Linked DNA regions of Homo sapiens. The protein of the gene in region 2 purifies or fractionates together with the protein of the main gene of each other region. This does not show direct contact. Each region holds a gene or a part of one and is shown on either strand. Other genes may lie near its edges. The genes, in order: RNPEP, KCNJ2, ROCK2 and NCAPD2.

Region 1 (4,261 bases), on a different chromosome or scaffold from region 2:
TAAGTGGAGGACAGGAAACTGACATAATCATATCTGATGAATTTAATATTCTCAATAAAACAGGAGACAAGACCTTCTGCTTAAATGAGGGGATGGGATTGGATAGCAAACTTAAAGAGAAGAGTAAAGTCTTAGAACAGCTTAAAGGGAGTGAGATGGAAAGGTAAATAAGAGGACTGTTGAACAACCTTGAAAGCACACCTGCAGTTGAAGACTGTACATCTGTTACATTTTTCTGGAAAACCCCACACATGTCTATTTCAACTTTCCTTTAATTCCAACTTTTCACGAAGAATTGAGAAAGGTGTAGTGGTTATTACTGTGTAGTTTCACTATTTTCTACATCTCCCAAATACCCACTTATAGAAGTAGAGAAAAGGAATTGTATAACAAGGGACTGGGACATTATAGCAGCGGGAAGTGGGCAAGGGGCTTTGGGGTGTTGGTAAGAGGTAACCAACCACACACTTGGGCCAGGGAGGGAAGCCCAGTCAGGAGGGTCTTGACTGCCCAGGAGAAATGAGTGGCTTGCCGGAAGGGAGGCTGCCATGAGCTCAAGGAGGAGACATGGTGGAATATAGTGGGAGAGAGGCCGTCAGAGAGCTGGAAGGTTAGCAGAGTCAGGATGAATGAGGACAAGGGGCTCAAGGGCCTTAAAAGTTCAGATATGGTACAGTTCATGACAATGACGATGTCTAGGCTCTAGACTCCAGAGCATGGGTGTGAATATGGGTGGCTGACAGAGTGGAGAAGGCTCCCTGAGTAGAGGTCAAGAAACCCTGAAGGTTGGTGTTGTGGCTCATGCCTGCAATCCCAACACTTTGGGAGGCCGAGGTGGGAGGATCTCTTGAGCCCAGGAGTTCAAGATCAGCCTGGACAACATAGCAAGACCTTGCTCCTGCAGAAAATAAATAAAATTAACTGGGCATGGTGACAGAGTAGCTGTGGTCCCAGCTACTCTGGAGACTGAAGTGGGAGGACTGCTTGAGCCTGGTAGCTTGAGGTTCAATGGGCTGTTATTGTGCCACTGCATTCCAGCCTGGGCAAGAGAGCGAGGCAAGAAAAGAAAGAAAGAGGGAGGGAGGGAGGGAGGGAGAAAGGCACAAGAAACCCTGCAGCCACCCTCAACCCTGGGTGTTAGGAGAGAAAAGTCGCCAAAGATGATGTGACAGGAAACCAGACAGAAAAAGATCATGGGACGGCAGTCAGTATCTTCAAGGAATTACTTTGTGAATTGTTCTACCACCACCTTGGATGTCAAAATTACCACAGTCCTTCAGCCCAGTGGACTTCAGCTTGTTACAACTAGAAGGTTTAAGACAGTCATCCAAGATACCTCCACCAGGACACACATTTCTGTCAAAATAAATCAGGATGCTCTCAGTCAAGCTGCAATCTCACTACCTGTAGTATATTGCAAAGAGCACTGGATTTGCAATGGAAATACCTGAATTTTAATTCCAGTTTTGCCAACTAGTGGTCCTGCACAAGCCACTCACCACAGCCTTGGTTTGCTTATTTTTAAAATGTAGAAAGTATCATCCTCATGGAGTCTGTGTAAGGATTAGAAGAGATTATACATAAAAGGGCCTACTGGGATATACCCATAATTCCCCTCTGCCCAGGATTTTCCTCTTGCAGTAACAGGGACTGGGATAGGTGGCATACCTTGCCAGAAGACCCTCCGATTTAATAAACCCCCACGGCCCGGCGTGGTGGCTCATGCCTGTAATCGAGCACTTTGGGAGGCCGAGGTGGATGGATCACGAGGTCAGGAGTTCAAGACTAGCCTGGCCAACATAGTGAAACCCTGTCTCTATTAAAAATATGAAAATTAGCCAGAAATGGTGGCACACACCTGTAGTCCCAGCTACTTGGGAGGCTGAGGCAGGAGAATCACTTGAACCCAGGAGGCGGAGGTTGTGGTGAGCCAAGATCGCGCCACTGCACTCCAGCCTGGGCAACAGAGCAAGACGCCATCTCAAAAATAATAAATAAATAACCCCCCACAAGACCCTACGATGTGACCCAGGAGGCAAGAACTGTCCATTTAATCACGGAAGGAATAAGGCATTACCACCAGTTAAGTGGATTCTGTCACCTAGTTCGATATACCATGTTGTCATTTTATTACAGGCAGTATAAAAAGAAATCATTATCACTCAGTATCTTTAGAATCTATTGTTCTCTCATTTCCCATTAATAGTTCATACTCTTACAAGTAGAACCTTAGTAAGGGTATTCTTGGAAACGACGTTCCTTTACTTATCTACTTGCTTGTCTATTGCAAAGATGACATCCTTTTGGTTATTTCCCGCCCTGCCTATTAGGAAGACAGCCCTTCGTAAGAGGAGGGCACTTTGTCTTTCCAGACTGGTATTGTTTTGAATGTGTGCGCTGGGAGCAGATGCCAATGGAATCCCATTTATTATTCCAACTGATAACCAGAAACTAAGACTCATGATACCAGCAGTGCCACTGAGCCCAGTTATGAAGTCTGAGGCTCGTAACTAATGTTGTCAAGGACACCACTGCCTCTAGGAACTGGGAGCAGGGCCAGAGATAAAGAACAGCAACAGTGCCAGGAAAAGGTCACGGCTTCACCGTCCAGCCTGTGATGCTCCCACATTGGGACTAAGCTATGGTGGAGGTAATATGAGAGCCAGGAAAAACCTATACTCCTGGTCAAACCTCTTTTATCAGGAAACCTTACAAAATCCCTTTTTATCTTCACAAGATCCATGTAACTTCACGGAGGCATTGCTCTCACCGTAGGCTTAGACTCATGCATCTGCTGCAGATAGGAAGGAGAGTCCACTTCCCTCTTCGAGGGAAATGATACCAAAGTTGTTATTTCCAGGAACTACGTGCAAAAGAAAATGGGGAAGATTTGGTACAAAGATAGGAAAGTGGATATAGCTGCTAGAAGGGCATTTAGAACTTAAAGATATTAATAAAGATCCATTTCCCAGGCCGGGCATGATGGCTCATGCCTGTAATCCCAGCACTTTGGGAGGCCAAGGCGGGTGAATCACCTGAGGTCAGGAGTTCAAGAGCAGCCTGGCCAACATGGTGAAACCCCGTCTCTACGAAAAATACAAAAATTAGCCGAGCGTGGTGGGGCATGCCTGCAGTCCCAGTTACTTGGGAGGCTGGGGCAGGAGAATCGCTTGAACCCAGGAGGCAGAGGTTGCAGTGAGCCAAGATCGCACCATTGCACTCCAGTCCAGCCTGGGCAACACAGCAAGACTCCATCTCAAAAAAAAAAAAAAATCCATTTCCCAAAACTGCAGCCTAAATTCCAACATCCCTCTGTAAGGCAGCCCAGGACAGCGCTACTGCTAGCAGGGATGATGATCTCATTCCAGGCAGCAGGATTAGAACTGGAGAGAGGGAGTGAGAAAGGCAGGGAGAAAAAGAGCACTTCCTCCAGCTGTGCTCATGCTGCATGAGCTGCAGAAAGGCTCTGGACTCAGACAGAGGATCCAAGACTGCCCAAGAACCCCCCCAGCAGGTCCACTGGTCAGAGTCCTCCTCACCTCTGAGGCCAATCCAACCTTGCCTGTGGGGTCTTTGTCTCCTACCTGGGTCCAACTTCAGCCGAAACCAGATCTCCGATGGCCAAAGCTATCAGATAGGAGGGGATGGGCTGACACATCTGGAAGAAGAACTTATTTGGACCTCTCTTCTCCCAGGTGCTAGCACTCATCACAGCTGTGAAGCCATCTGGGACCTGACAACAGAGAAAGCTTAGGAGATTTTACCTGGAGAGAGTTTCCTTTTGATTAGTTTGAATAAGAGCATGACCGGCCACCTGTGTGTGATGATAATGGCCTGGAGTCTATCTTGGAGAACACAAAGGTTTCAAGAAACTAAATCTGTGCTCAACTGATGGGATTTAGAGGAAGGCTACATACAACTTCAGTAGGTGGAAGAATTTAAAAGTAAGCAATTTTTCAGAAGTACCACTGAATGGATATAATAATTTACCACTGAAACGTGACCTGATTGATAGATCTGAAATCATTTCTTCATCCCAAGGGCAGGTGCACCTAACCTTAGTCTCCTTACCTCAATAAGAGCTGAATACTTGTATTTAACAGCAGGCGTGTCGAAGCAAGGGAAGAAGGCCCGGTTTAGGACAGCCTGGCCCTGGGTGTACACGAAGGGCTTCTTCTTTCCTGCTGTCTGCTCGGGAGCCAACCAGCAAACCTAAGCGAAAAGAAGAACATTTCAGAACTGACATCTCCCACACGAGCTC
Region 2 (4,261 bases):
GCCCTGTTTTTTTAATGATAGCTTTTCTCAGCTGCTCACGAATTGGTAATTGCTAGTGAGAGGACCGGGCAAGGAAGTTTTCTGCTTGCTTAAAGTCGCTCAGGCATGTGGGCAGGTTAACAGTAAAAGCAATTTTTACCATGAAATATTAAGACCGTTACCCCATCAAACCTTGACAGGTTCTAGACTTTAGCTATGTAATCAGCTCCACAAAAAGTCTGCATACATATATGTGTGTGCACCTGCATACACACATAAATCTGTTTGGGGGCATATCTATTTAAAGTGGCAAAAGTTTTCTTTTTGCCAAAAAAAAAAAAAAAAAAAAAAAAAGCCCAAAACTCCTCTTTTTCTCTTTCCAGGAAGAAATGGTAAAATTTCTAAATGATGCTCCACATGTGGAACAAATTCTGTTATTAGCAATGGAAATAAGACAATAATAGTCTCTCAATACAGGCTACTTTCAAGATTCTAAATGTGGAAAGCTATTCATAGGAAGCTGGTATTGTGTGATTTGTGGAATTCAAACAAATGTCCTGGGGTCAAGATTTTTGGAAAGTCATAATTCAGTCTTTAGATTTCATATGGTTGTTATGTTTTAATCTGGAAGGAGTACAGAAATAAGTCAGAAGAAATTTGAGACTGTCTACTCATGGCCCCTAATGGTAACTCACATGGAAGGATTGTTTTGAATCATGAAAAGGGAATTTCTTGGTGTCAGCTTATAATACAAAGTTCTGAAGTCAATCAGAACTCAAAAATACAAAGCATTCATTGAATGAAGTTCTTCTCCTTTTTTTGAAACGTATACCTGCGTTTGGTGTTGTTGCTGTCTCTGTCTGTTTAGTAATGTGAGAAAACTAAGATGAAATAATTGCTTAAAAAATGCTGTCCATGTACAGGATCTAGAACTTCGAGGGGCAGGATTCTTGTTTCTTTGGTCCAAGTGCAAACTTCACAGGGAAGCAGACAAAACATTGAAGCAGGTGGAAGGTTAGGAAAGCACAGTAACTTCTTTTTATAAAGTAATTCAAAGGCACTTTCAAACTGAGCATCATTTAGGTGTCAAAAGCTGCCAAAATGTAACACACATTGCAATTTTCAAAGATGACTAATCTCAGGAAAAATGTGTTGGGGCACATTCTTGCATAATAACTTGGATAAAGAAGAAGTCAAAAGACAGTAACAAGGCATTTTCAAAGGCAATGCACCTTGCCTCTTCTTAAGGGAATGCACAAAAACAACATAAATGGATTGCTTTATTTGTTTGCGGCTGGCTTGGCTGATATCGGTTCTATTAACTGTTTAATCTTAATGGATTTAGAGGAGAAGGAAAAAGTGGAGTCTTCATTATCAGGCATCAACAAATTTCTGACTCTTTTCATGAGTTATTCATTGCCCCCCTTTAATATAGCAGAAGGATTTGGTTGTATGAAAAGTTGAAGATGGGCTTTATTTTTCAGTTCTAACTCTTATTAGTTTTGTTATTACACATTTGGTAAAGAAAACACCTTAGACTTTCTCTTAGCTTTTTGTTAGTTAGTCAAGGGAAATAGTTTCTTAGGAGTGAAGATGGAAAGTTGAAGTACATAGATAGTTCTTAGCTAGGGAAGACTGAGGCAATAGGAGAAAACTGAGAACTACTATTTGCACATATTAAGTAAAGGTGAGTGCCTTCTCCATAGGAACCTATACCAAATAACAGCGCTGGAAGTGAAAGTAAGCGGACTGGCATTTATGATCTGTCCTTACACAGTTGTCTCTGTCTGAGAGAACACAGCACTGGACTCACATGAAATGAGTTCCTGCCTTATCTCAATCCGCTAAAGACCTGGTCCTTTGGCACAACGGTGCTTACTTCCTAGCCTGTCATTACACATGACAGCCCCATCTCAGGAGAATTTCAGGGCTCTTATTGCTAGGCAACAGAATTGCTCTCTATCCCCCAGAGCAAACCTGCATCTTCAGAGTCTTCAAGCCAGAATTACCTGTACTAATAGAGACTTAGCAGGCATTTCTGCATAGTGGTTGCTTAAAGTGTGAGAAGTGATGAAGCAAGCCCAAACAGTATCCAGAAACTGGGATCCATTTCAGATTATTATAAGCAATAGGGGCAGTATTCACCATCGTAGGAGGTTTTGTCCACTAGTTCCCTCTATTTTCAGGATACACACTCAGTCAAGCCTACTCCAAAATCCACTTCACTATTCTATTTGTAGGTGGGAATCTGACTTTCTTCCTCTAGCATTTCGTCAGCCTATCCGGTCTGCTCAGTTATATCATTTAAACAAAATAGTCTGTCTTCCGATTTCAACCTTGCCATCAGGGACTCTAATATTCTCCCGTAATGCACATGCAACTCAGTGGATATCAATGCTGCGTCCACGTGAAGTTTTCTAAACATGTCCTTTTTCCAAAAATTTTACGACAAACCTTGGAATCAGACAGTCTTTCATCTGCTTAACAGGGATCCTAGCAAGTGGGGCAGGCAGAAGAAGAGAATAAGAGAAGGGAGAGGTAGACCTGAACAATAGAATATTCTAGATCCCTGGCCAAAAAGAAGGGAAAGGGGACCTGACCTGACATTTTGGTTGAACAACTGTCACAGACAACTCTTCTATGTTTAACGACTTTATGCTTTTAAATAAAAGTTTTACAAAGCATGCTTAGGATACAAAGAAATTTAAAACCTTATAATTTAATGTAAATTATACTTATCTTTACCTGATTATGTGTTTTTGTTAGGATATATTGTCTTAGACAGTAGAATTCTTTAAGAGTGGCTTATTTTGTAATGCACAGTCTCTCTTTTCTTGCAGGACATGTTCTCTGGATGTCAGCTGAGTCATTAAAGTAACTCTGCATGTCAGTAGACAGACCTTGGTAGAACCACAAGGCTCCCAGAGACACCCATCTCTCCTCATTTTTTTGGTGTGTGTGTCTTCACCGAACATTCAAAACTGTTTCTCCAAAGCGTTTTGCAAAAACTCAGACTGTTTTCCAAAGCAGAAGCACTGGAGTCCCCAGCAGAAGCGATGGGCAGTGTGCGAACCAACCGCTACAGCATCGTCTCTTCAGAAGAAGACGGTATGAAGTTGGCCACCATGGCAGTTGCAAATGGCTTTGGGAACGGGAAGAGTAAAGTCCACACCCGACAACAGTGCAGGAGCCGCTTTGTGAAGAAAGATGGCCACTGTAATGTTCAGTTCATCAATGTGGGTGAGAAGGGGCAACGGTACCTCGCAGACATCTTCACCACGTGTGTGGACATTCGCTGGCGGTGGATGCTGGTTATCTTCTGCCTGGCTTTCGTCCTGTCATGGCTGTTTTTTGGCTGTGTGTTTTGGTTGATAGCTCTGCTCCATGGGGACCTGGATGCATCCAAAGAGGGCAAAGCTTGTGTGTCCGAGGTCAACAGCTTCACGGCTGCCTTCCTCTTCTCCATTGAGACCCAGACAACCATAGGCTATGGTTTCAGATGTGTCACGGATGAATGCCCAATTGCTGTTTTCATGGTGGTGTTCCAGTCAATCGTGGGCTGCATCATCGATGCTTTCATCATTGGCGCAGTCATGGCCAAGATGGCAAAGCCAAAGAAGAGAAACGAGACTCTTGTCTTCAGTCACAATGCCGTGATTGCCATGAGAGACGGCAAGCTGTGTTTGATGTGGCGAGTGGGCAATCTTCGGAAAAGCCACTTGGTGGAAGCTCATGTTCGAGCACAGCTCCTCAAATCCAGAATTACTTCTGAAGGGGAGTATATCCCTCTGGATCAAATAGACATCAATGTTGGGTTTGACAGTGGAATCGATCGTATATTTCTGGTGTCCCCAATCACTATAGTCCATGAAATAGATGAAGACAGTCCTTTATATGATTTGAGTAAACAGGACATTGACAACGCAGACTTTGAAATCGTGGTCATACTGGAAGGCATGGTGGAAGCCACTGCCATGACGACACAGTGCCGTAGCTCTTATCTAGCAAATGAAATCCTGTGGGGCCACCGCTATGAGCCTGTGCTCTTTGAAGAGAAGCACTACTACAAAGTGGACTATTCCAGGTTCCACAAAACTTACGAAGTCCCCAACACTCCCCTTTGTAGTGCCAGAGACTTAGCAGAAAAGAAATATATCCTCTCAAATGCAAATTCATTTTGCTATGAAAATGAAGTTGCCCTCACAAGCAAAGAGGAAGACGACAGTGAAAATGGAGTTCCAGAAAGCACTAGTACGGACACGCCCCCTGACATAGACCTTCA
Region 3 (4,261 bases), on a different chromosome or scaffold from region 2:
TGTTGATCAGGCTGGTCTCGAACTCCTGACCTCAAATGATCCACCCACCTCAGCCTCCCAAAGTGCTGAGATTACAGGCATGAGCCACCATGCCTGGCCATCAGTTTCTTAAAAAGTAAACACATATCTGCCCTATGAGTTAGCAATTCCACTACAAGGTATTTAATTTACCCAAAAGAAATGAAAACTTTCATAACAACTGTATTAAGAGCCAAAGTAGGCTGGGTGCAGTGGCTCAGGCCTCTAATCCAACGTTTTCAGGGGCTGAGGCTGGAGGATCACTTGAGGCCAGGAGTTTGAGACCAGCCTGGACAACACAGCAAGACCCCATTTCTGCAAAAATAAAATAAAATAAAAATTAGCCAATTACAGTGGCACAGGCCTGTAGTCCCTACTAGAGGGGCTAAGTTGGAAGGATCATTGAGACCAGGAGTTGAAGGTTATAGTGCGCTATGACTACACCACTGCATCCCAGCCTGAGCAAGAGAGCAAGATCTTGTCTCCATATTTTAAAAAAATCAAGCCAAAATATATAATACACTCAGCACTCTGTATCCATGAATCCAACCATGGATCAAAAATAATTTGGAAAAAAAATAAAAATTAAAAAATACAAACTAAAACAATACAGTATCGTATTAGGCATTGTAAGTAATCTAGAGATGACTTAAAGTATATGGAGGATATGCACAGATTACATGCAAATACTAATGCCATTTTATAAAAAGGACTGTGCGTCGTCGGATTTTGGTACGTAGGCAGACTATAAGGCAAGTATCCTGGAACCAATCCCCGGAGAACACCAAGGGACCAGTGTACATTCTGAAAACAAAAAACTGAAAACTAGTCCAGGTATGCATCAACACGAGATATCCAAGCAAACTGCAGTTTATACATATAACAGAAGACAATTCAACAATGAGAAAAAGGAATAAACTGCTGACACACACAATAACACAGATAACTCTCAGAAACAATGCTAAATTAAAGAAGCCAGACACAGAAAAGTATATACTATATGATTCCATTTTTATGAAGTATAGAAGAAGTCAAAGTAATCTTTACTGCAAAAAAAAAAAAAAATCAGAAGAATGACTGCCTCTAATAGAAGAAAATGGTGTGTGAAATTAGCTGAAAAGGTGTGAAGGAGATTTCTGAGTTGGTAATAATGGTCTGTATTTTTACAAGAATTTGCATTAAATAGGTGTGTGCATTTGTCAAAACTCACCAGCGGTACACTTCAGATCTGTGCATTTCATTGCATGCAAATTTAATCTTTAAAAAATCTAAACAAATATTGAACTCTTCTTAATTAAATACATACTGAAGTGTTTGAAGGTGAAGTATACTAATATCTCCAATTTACTTTAAGTGAACCAAAAATAAAAGATGTATTGATAGATGGATAAAGGAATGGACAGATAAAGAAAATACAGCAAATACAGCAAAATATTAATTATGCGGTAAATATATGGATGTTCACTGTCGATTTTTTCACCCTTACTATACTTCGAAATTTTCTATAATAACATCATGGGGAAAATTTTCAACTCTATCCATTATATTAAGTTGACTGAACATAGTATATCTTAAAATCCAGCAATTCCACTCCCAGATATATACCCTAATCTACAGGAATTATTCACGTGAGCTCCAGAAATGCTCCTAGCAACACTTTCCATAACAGAAAAAAAAAAACAAAAAAAAAAGAAAGAAAGAAAACTGTAAATATCCATTAAGTAGATCGGAGCTATACTGATTATCATAGCAGAGAATATGAATAACCCACAATGTTAGTGAATCTTAGAAACACCATTTTCAGTAAATAAAGCAAGTCATAAAAGAATACATAAAAATGCTGACATTTTATAAAGTTAAAAAAACAAGTAAAACTAAACAATATTGTTTAGAGATACACACAAATGTAGTAATCTATGAAATGAAGCAAAGGAACAATAAAATGTTCAGGGTAGCAGATGAGAGAGGATGCAGGAAGACTGAATCCAGCAGCGGCGACGGCACACAGGTAACTTCTACAGGCTAGTGTTCCACTTATTAACTTGTGTGGTGATTTCATGAATATGTTTTTACGCTTCGTAACTTATATTTGCATACTATATTTTTAGAATTCAAAATGGGAAAAAGAGGGCTATCTGATCAAGACTTGGGAAATAAAAAACAAAAAAGTTAGGTTTCAAGATAATTATCCACTATTTATTTACAGCTACTGAAGTGTATGTAAGTCCGTATTTCCTTACTTAGTCTACATTGGCCTTACCCTGGGACCAAAATGTTTCCGAACTCAGAATTTCTTGGATTTTAGAAAGGTACACAGTACATATACTGTGTACTCCCAAAAATGCTCTTGAAAATCTGGGCAACACCCTGAAATCAAATACATTCATATTCCTCCAGCAAAAGGCATTATTATTTACATCAAGAGGAATGACTAGACCACAAGTATTCTAATGTGAGATTAGGTCAGATGTTATCATCAAATACATTTTACCAAAAACTGGGTTTTTTATATATCAAAATTGTGGATAAGGGATTGCGGACCTGCACTTGCTTCACATCAACAGTAAGTTCCACACATCACCTTTTTTTTAAAACCTCCCTAGCTAACTCATTTTCTTTAAATATCTCCTATCAACATGAAAGTTTTAAAGTAAACTAGTCACAAATTTTACACTATAAATGCCAAACTCTTCATAAAGAAAAAAATGTATAAAATGATTTTTAATTTTTATTCTATTTCATTTTTATTGTATCTTTATAATGTTCTTACTTATTACATGATGGGAAAAATACACATACAATTTTATTTTAACTAGGCAAATAACCAGCAGCATGCTGAAAGAGTCTAAGCACTGAGATAATATTGTCAGATAGTTTACAAGTATAATGAAATCAATCAAATTATTTTATGTTTTATGCCACTGAAAATTGTAAACAAAGTTTTAATCACCTTTGCCCATCCACACAAGTCTTAAGTAAGAGTTTACCCAAGCGTGAGTCCTACAGGTTATTGTGACTGTTTACTCTTTGAAAGAGTAAAATAAATCAACACTCAAAAAGCACAGACCTTTAGAAAAATATCTCTTCAGCAAAGCCTGAAACACAGTTCTTTTTACCATAATAGGTAAGCAGTATGAGAAGCTGGTCTTGACAACAAAGCATAGGTATTTACCCAAAGGTTTCAAACACTACAAAAGCATATTACTGAAGACTCGCCTCCAAAAAAAAAAAGAGGCAGTAGAGAAGCAAAACTCTAAGTAATACTAAGCGGCTCACAATCTGCAACCATAAAAGAGATATACTCTTCTCAGATTAATTTAAGGACCCACATAAAGCCATGAGCCTTTGCAGAGAAACAAGATGTCATCTTTACACTGATTTAGTCTTGGAATCCAGCTCTACCTATGCCTAATGATTGCTAGCACTTTTCTGATGACAAATTCAAATGATAATGCTACTCACTCAAAATTATGTAGCAAGAAATAGTTGCAAATAAAACCATTTTCCTTTGAAAAGAAAATTTAAAGCAGTTAACTAATAACATGCTAAGTGTGCACAGGAGAAGTGAACTAAATTTAATGAGCACTGTGATGTACCAAGCACTAGGCTAAGCACTTTACACGTTATCTCATAAAACTTTGTTTCCTACAGAGTTTTACCTTCTAGGCCTAGCCCACTGAAAGCATCATACAATCATTTCTGGTGTACTTCATCTTCTTTTGTCATCTTAGGTATATACTATTTTTAATGGTACTTTCTGAGCTCCTGAATGTAGTGTCGCAGCTGTGTTTGCTTTAAATTATATTCCTTTAAATTTTCTGTTAAAGACAAAATATGTATTTCCCATGGCAAAACCAAAAAATAAATGTCATAGGCAGTAAAACAATGACCAATAGTGAAATGCAACCTAAATGCTAAGGTTTCAGATCTTTAAAGTGATACCAGCCATTATTTCGTCAGTATTTCAGGAAATATAATTTTTATAACATTCTTTTAAACATTAATTTACAGTTTCAGTTTGGAAAAATGAAAAGATTCCAGAGACGGATAGTGGTGATGGCTGCACAACAATGTGAATGTATTTAATGCCTGCCACTAACCTGTACACTTAAAAATGGTTAAAAATGGTAAATTCTGTATACGCTACCACAATAAAAAATCCATTCTAGTAGTTCATAAATAAAATACGCGTAATTTAAAATTAATTTATTATAAAAAAATTTTTAAATTTCGTTTATCAATT
Region 4 (4,261 bases), on a different chromosome or scaffold from region 2:
GGAATCAATTATCCCATGCTCTGCCACTCCAGAAGCAGTCAGAAAGCTGTCTAGAGTTGAAAGCTGGAGTGGGGGAAAGAGGTGAAGCTTCTAACCAGAAGTGTCAGTCCCACTGGGGTGACTCTTAGCCAGGGGCCTGTACAGGTCAAGTATCAAGCAGATGTTCGCGGTGATGCCAAAGCCTAGGGGAAGAGCCCTGGTGATTCTCACACTGACTCTCAACAGACTCCGGGGCTCCTGGGAACTGCCACCACGTTGTGAGGGGTCTCTTACCGAGCATACAGATGAGGAGTCCAGGGGTCCACCAGATTGGGAAAGCGGATGGCCAGATCCCCAGTGGCAACCATGAGGTTAGACCGGACAATGGGAAGTGGAGACTTTTCCAGCATGGTGAACAGAAGACGAAGCTGGGAGTCGCAGAAAGTGGCACTAAGAGCAAGAAGAGGATCATTAGGGAAGCCATTTCATCCCCATCTTCCTTGAGAAGGGGGTACCAACCCCACGGCCTACCTGATCATGCAGAACTTGCCAAGGGCAAGTGAAGCAGCTGCAGAGAGGTCTGGGTTGCTATAGAGGCCTGGGTTGTTACAGACTTTAAGCAAGAGTGGAACAAAGGCAGCCAGTGTCTGTTTGCCTGTTGGAAGAGTAACTGCAGGTTTGGGACAGGTTATCTTAATTGGGAAGAAACTGCTGAGTGCAGCCATTTTTCTTACCATCCAACAGTTCCATCTCGCAGATGCCACGGATTAGTTCTGCCTCTGTGTCATCTGCTGTTGCCCCAACCAGCCCCAGCTCCTCCTCCATGGTGGTCTCAGAGCTCGTATTCTAAAGGGAATGAAATTGGGGATCATGGATAAGCAGAGACAACATTTTTGATTCCAGCCCATACTTTGTTTTGCATGAACAAAGTGAGGAAGGGCAAATTCTACAAAAACATTTAGAGAATTGTCAAATGTGTCTGTAAAGAGAAAGGATTCCTGAATTAAGCAGGGGAACAATGAGGTCCCCATTTGTTTTAAGTTGCCAAAGCGTGTTTCTGCACCTCTTCCTCATGGAAGACATCGTTTCCTATATATGGTAAACAGATGGATCACGCCAGACAATGGTTCAAAGTCACAGAGGTCAGACTTTTCTCCAGCGCTGCAAGGCTCTGTGTCTTATTTGTCTGCAAGACATCATTGCCTCTAGTGGAGGGAACACAGGGCCCCATCCGGGGCCAGGCCAGCAATGGAAGCTGATGGAAAAGGCCGGCGGGTACGTGCGTGTTCTAACAAACCCTGCCTCAGACACAAAGCCTCTGTTTTATGCTGAGGTCTCTAACTCCACACTCTGCATTTACCTAAATCTTTCCTTCCTGGGTGATCACTGACAGTTTCGTCATTGTTCACACGAACCTTTCCTACGGTAGTAGCCACAGAGAGGCAGAAACTCTTCGCTTCATGTAATAGCAGAGGAGCAGAGATTGCCGGAAGGGGATCAGCTCAGTTCTGAGCTGAGGTATGAAATAAATCTGGGAAGTGCTGAGGACATTCACACACCTTCTCCTTGGGATCTTTGGTCTTGTGCTCCTGTTCTTCCCGGAGAACTCGGCGCCGGCAGAGCTCTCCACTCACTGCCTGCTCCAAGTGGACCAGCTGCTGCAGAGCCACATCCCCAGCCAGGGACAGCAGGTTCATCAACAGGAAAGTGGGGAGCATTGCGGGGGACTCCTCTGGAGGAGAGGGAGAGGGAAGGTGGGGCAAAGAGACATTTTTAAGTCCCATCAAACCTGAATCCGATTTTTACTGATCTTCCCCTTGCTCACGTGCTATTCAAACTAGTGAAGTAGTAAGAGTTGGGGGTGGGAACTGGCCCAACTTCAACTTAGACAAAAACGACACAGTGTACACTAAGGGTTGTTGCAGATAGTGGTGGTGGCAGTGGCTCCTGGCCCTGCAGGGAGAACAGAAGCTGGCTGCCGCAGTGGGTCAACCCCTGCCCACTTACTCGGGTCCTCCTGACTGGTTCTCTTCTCTTCTAGCTTCTCCAGGGCCTGTTTTGCACAGCCCTGCAATATCTGGGCACAGATCACTTCGGGGCCCTCTGCCAGTTGGTAAATGAGGGTCACTGCCACCTCTTTGAATGGGATCCAGAGTGGGTCTGGGTGGACAAAGCCTGCAGAGGAGGAGGGAGAAGTTGTTTACTGCAACAAAGGGCCCAATTCTGCCCAAGGCCTTCCCTGAGAGCTCACCTTTTGTGACTGTCTCCCGCAGTCGCTCAAACAACCTGTGTTCCTGAGGCAGCCGGAAGGGGGGGTGACGTTTGCCCAGAGAAGGCTGTGGAGAGCAAGACAACGTGGGTGTGTGTACAGGGTGGACACGAGAATCTCCACTCTCCTTAGTTTGGAACCACCCCCACATACCTTTCTCCTGTCCGAGATGTTGGCAATGGCATGGCACACCTGCTGGGCCAGCCTGTAGTCCTGTGGAAACTTCTCATCCAGCCCTATGCTCACCAGTGTGTCTAAATTGCTTCCCACAATTTCTGGCTTTCCTCTAGGGGAAGGAAGCCACAGAGTTAAAGGCAGTCATGGATTGGACTCATCGGGGGAGAAAGGGCCAATAGGGGTAGGTACCAGCACCTCATGTGGTGTCTAGAGCCGTGGAGCACTATAGCGTGGCTCTGCCGCAGGGCCAGCCTCTTGGGTCCTGTTGCTTTACTGAATCCCACTACTACTAGGCAGGAGGGCTGGTCCTCTCACTATTTGCTTTTCCATTTAGGTGGCGTTATAACTCACAGCAGAGCTCAGTTGGGCCTCACTGTGACAATGTCACTGAAGGAAAAGGAGCCCTCTCAGAACCTTCCTTTGCTCTCCCACCCCATTGCCTGCTAGATTTGAGCCTCACCGTGCCATCATGCCAAGAAGCATGACAGAGGAACAGCGCTCCAGAGGACAGCAGGCGACCTTCTCGGTGGCCCGCTCCCACAGCAGCTGGGTCACTGCTGGTTTCAACTCATCCTTCTGCACAAACTCACAGAGCTAAAGAGAAAAGAAAAAGGGCTCAAGCCAAAAATGAACAATTCCTTGATCTTTGGTCTGCTTTTCTGAAGATGATATTGCGAACCTGAAGTAGACAAAAGTAATACTTAGGAAGAGAAAAAGAAAAGAGGAGGTTCAAAATGTACAGCAGGGTCTTGAGAGGCTTTCCATTCTCTACTTTTCTACTCTCATGCCTTCAAAACTATTTTATTCAAGTGACATATCGAAACTGACCTTTTGAGTTCCACGTGGGTCCATAGTTCTAAGTCTGGAGATTTCTAACAGGTTTTCTTGCCGTTACCACAAACTCAACATGTCCAACATGGAAGCCATCATCCTTCCTTGCCTTTTCATTTTGCCAGTGGTATCAACACTCTATCAGTAATATGTGCTTAAAATTTCGGTCATCTAATTTTTTTACAAATCAGTCACTATTTTTCCTTTAAAAATTTGTCTTCCATTAAGCCCATTCTGCAGTGATTTCTCCAATCCTCAAGTCCAGCCCCTCGTTACTGCCCACTGCAGCAGCCTCCACGGGCCTTCCTTCCCATGGGTTGGTCTCCTCAGCCTCTGCTTCCCCACGTCCCTTCTGTTGCACCCCAGTTTGCAGGTGCTCTCCCCTGCCTCTTGTAGGGCTTTTGCCGGTAACTGACCTATGACATCATGGCCAATCACCACCACCAGGCTCTTTTCTTTTCCCCAGTGAGGAGAAAAATGTGGCTGGCAGGAGCACGCTTCCCAGCGCCACCTCCACTCTCTGTGCCCGCAATGCAAATGCTACAAAGCAGAATGTCTCACTAAAATGCTGGGTGCCTGGCTAACACAGTTAAAGTCCTAGACTCCTGAAGTCATTCAGGGACTTCCACAGTTTAGTTCCAACCTACATTCACAACTTTATTATCTTTTCCAGATTTTTTTTTTTTTTTTTTTTTTTGAGACAGAGTCTCCCTCTGTCGCCCAGGCTGGAGTGCAGTGGCGCAATCTCGGCTCACTGCTACCTCCACCTCCTGGGTTCAAGCAACTGTCCTGCCTCAGCCTCCCAAGTAGCTGGGACTACAGGTGCCCACCACCACACCTGGCTAATTTTTTTGTATTTTTAGTAAAGGTGGGGTTTCGCCATGTTGACCAGGCTGGTCTCGAACTCCTGACCTCAGACCTCAGGTAATCTGCTGCCTTGGCCTCCCAAAGTGCTGGGATTACAGACGTGAGCCATCGCGCCTGGTCTTTTCCAGATAATTTGAA

Evidence for each region.
Region 1: the proteins of KCNJ2 (region 2) and RNPEP purify together in Homo sapiens (affinity purification with mass spectrometry, with the first as the bait; one large-scale study listed by BioGRID). This does not show direct contact.
Region 3: the proteins of KCNJ2 (region 2) and ROCK2 purify together in Homo sapiens (affinity purification with mass spectrometry, with the first as the bait; one large-scale study listed by BioGRID). This does not show direct contact.
Region 4: the proteins of KCNJ2 (region 2) and NCAPD2 purify together in Homo sapiens (affinity purification with mass spectrometry, with the first as the bait; one large-scale study listed by BioGRID). This does not show direct contact.

What each region holds. Positions count from the first base shown.
Region 1 is NC_000001.11:201,988,855-201,993,115, reverse strand, and holds part of RNPEP (aminopeptidase B), read right to left. Parts: intron 4,213-4,261; coding exon 4,072-4,212; intron 3,734-4,071; coding exon 3,585-3,733; intron 1-3,584. UniProt on the Homo sapiens protein: Exopeptidase which selectively removes arginine and/or lysine residues from the N-terminus of several peptide substrates including Arg(0)-Leu-enkephalin, Arg(0)-Met-enkephalin and Arg(-1)-Lys(0)-somatostatin-14.
Region 2 is NC_000017.11:70,172,005-70,176,265, forward strand, and holds part of KCNJ2 (inward rectifier potassium channel 2), read left to right. Parts: intron 1-2,819; 5' UTR 2,820-3,035; coding exon 3,036-4,261.
Region 3 is NC_000002.12:11,337,844-11,342,104, forward strand, and holds part of ROCK2 (rho-associated protein kinase 2), read right to left. Parts: intron 1-4,261. UniProt on the Homo sapiens protein: Protein kinase which is a key regulator of actin cytoskeleton and cell polarity.
Region 4 is NC_000012.12:6,524,341-6,528,601, reverse strand, and holds part of NCAPD2 (condensin complex subunit 1), read right to left. Parts: intron 3,020-4,261; coding exon 2,886-3,019; intron 2,535-2,885; coding exon 2,402-2,534; intron 2,316-2,401; coding exon 2,231-2,315; intron 2,155-2,230; coding exon 1,987-2,154; intron 1,712-1,986; coding exon 1,539-1,711; intron 826-1,538; coding exon 714-825; intron 635-713; coding exon 511-634; intron 430-510; coding exon 274-429; intron 1-273. UniProt on the Homo sapiens protein: Regulatory subunit of the condensin complex, a complex required for conversion of interphase chromatin into mitotic-like condense chromosomes.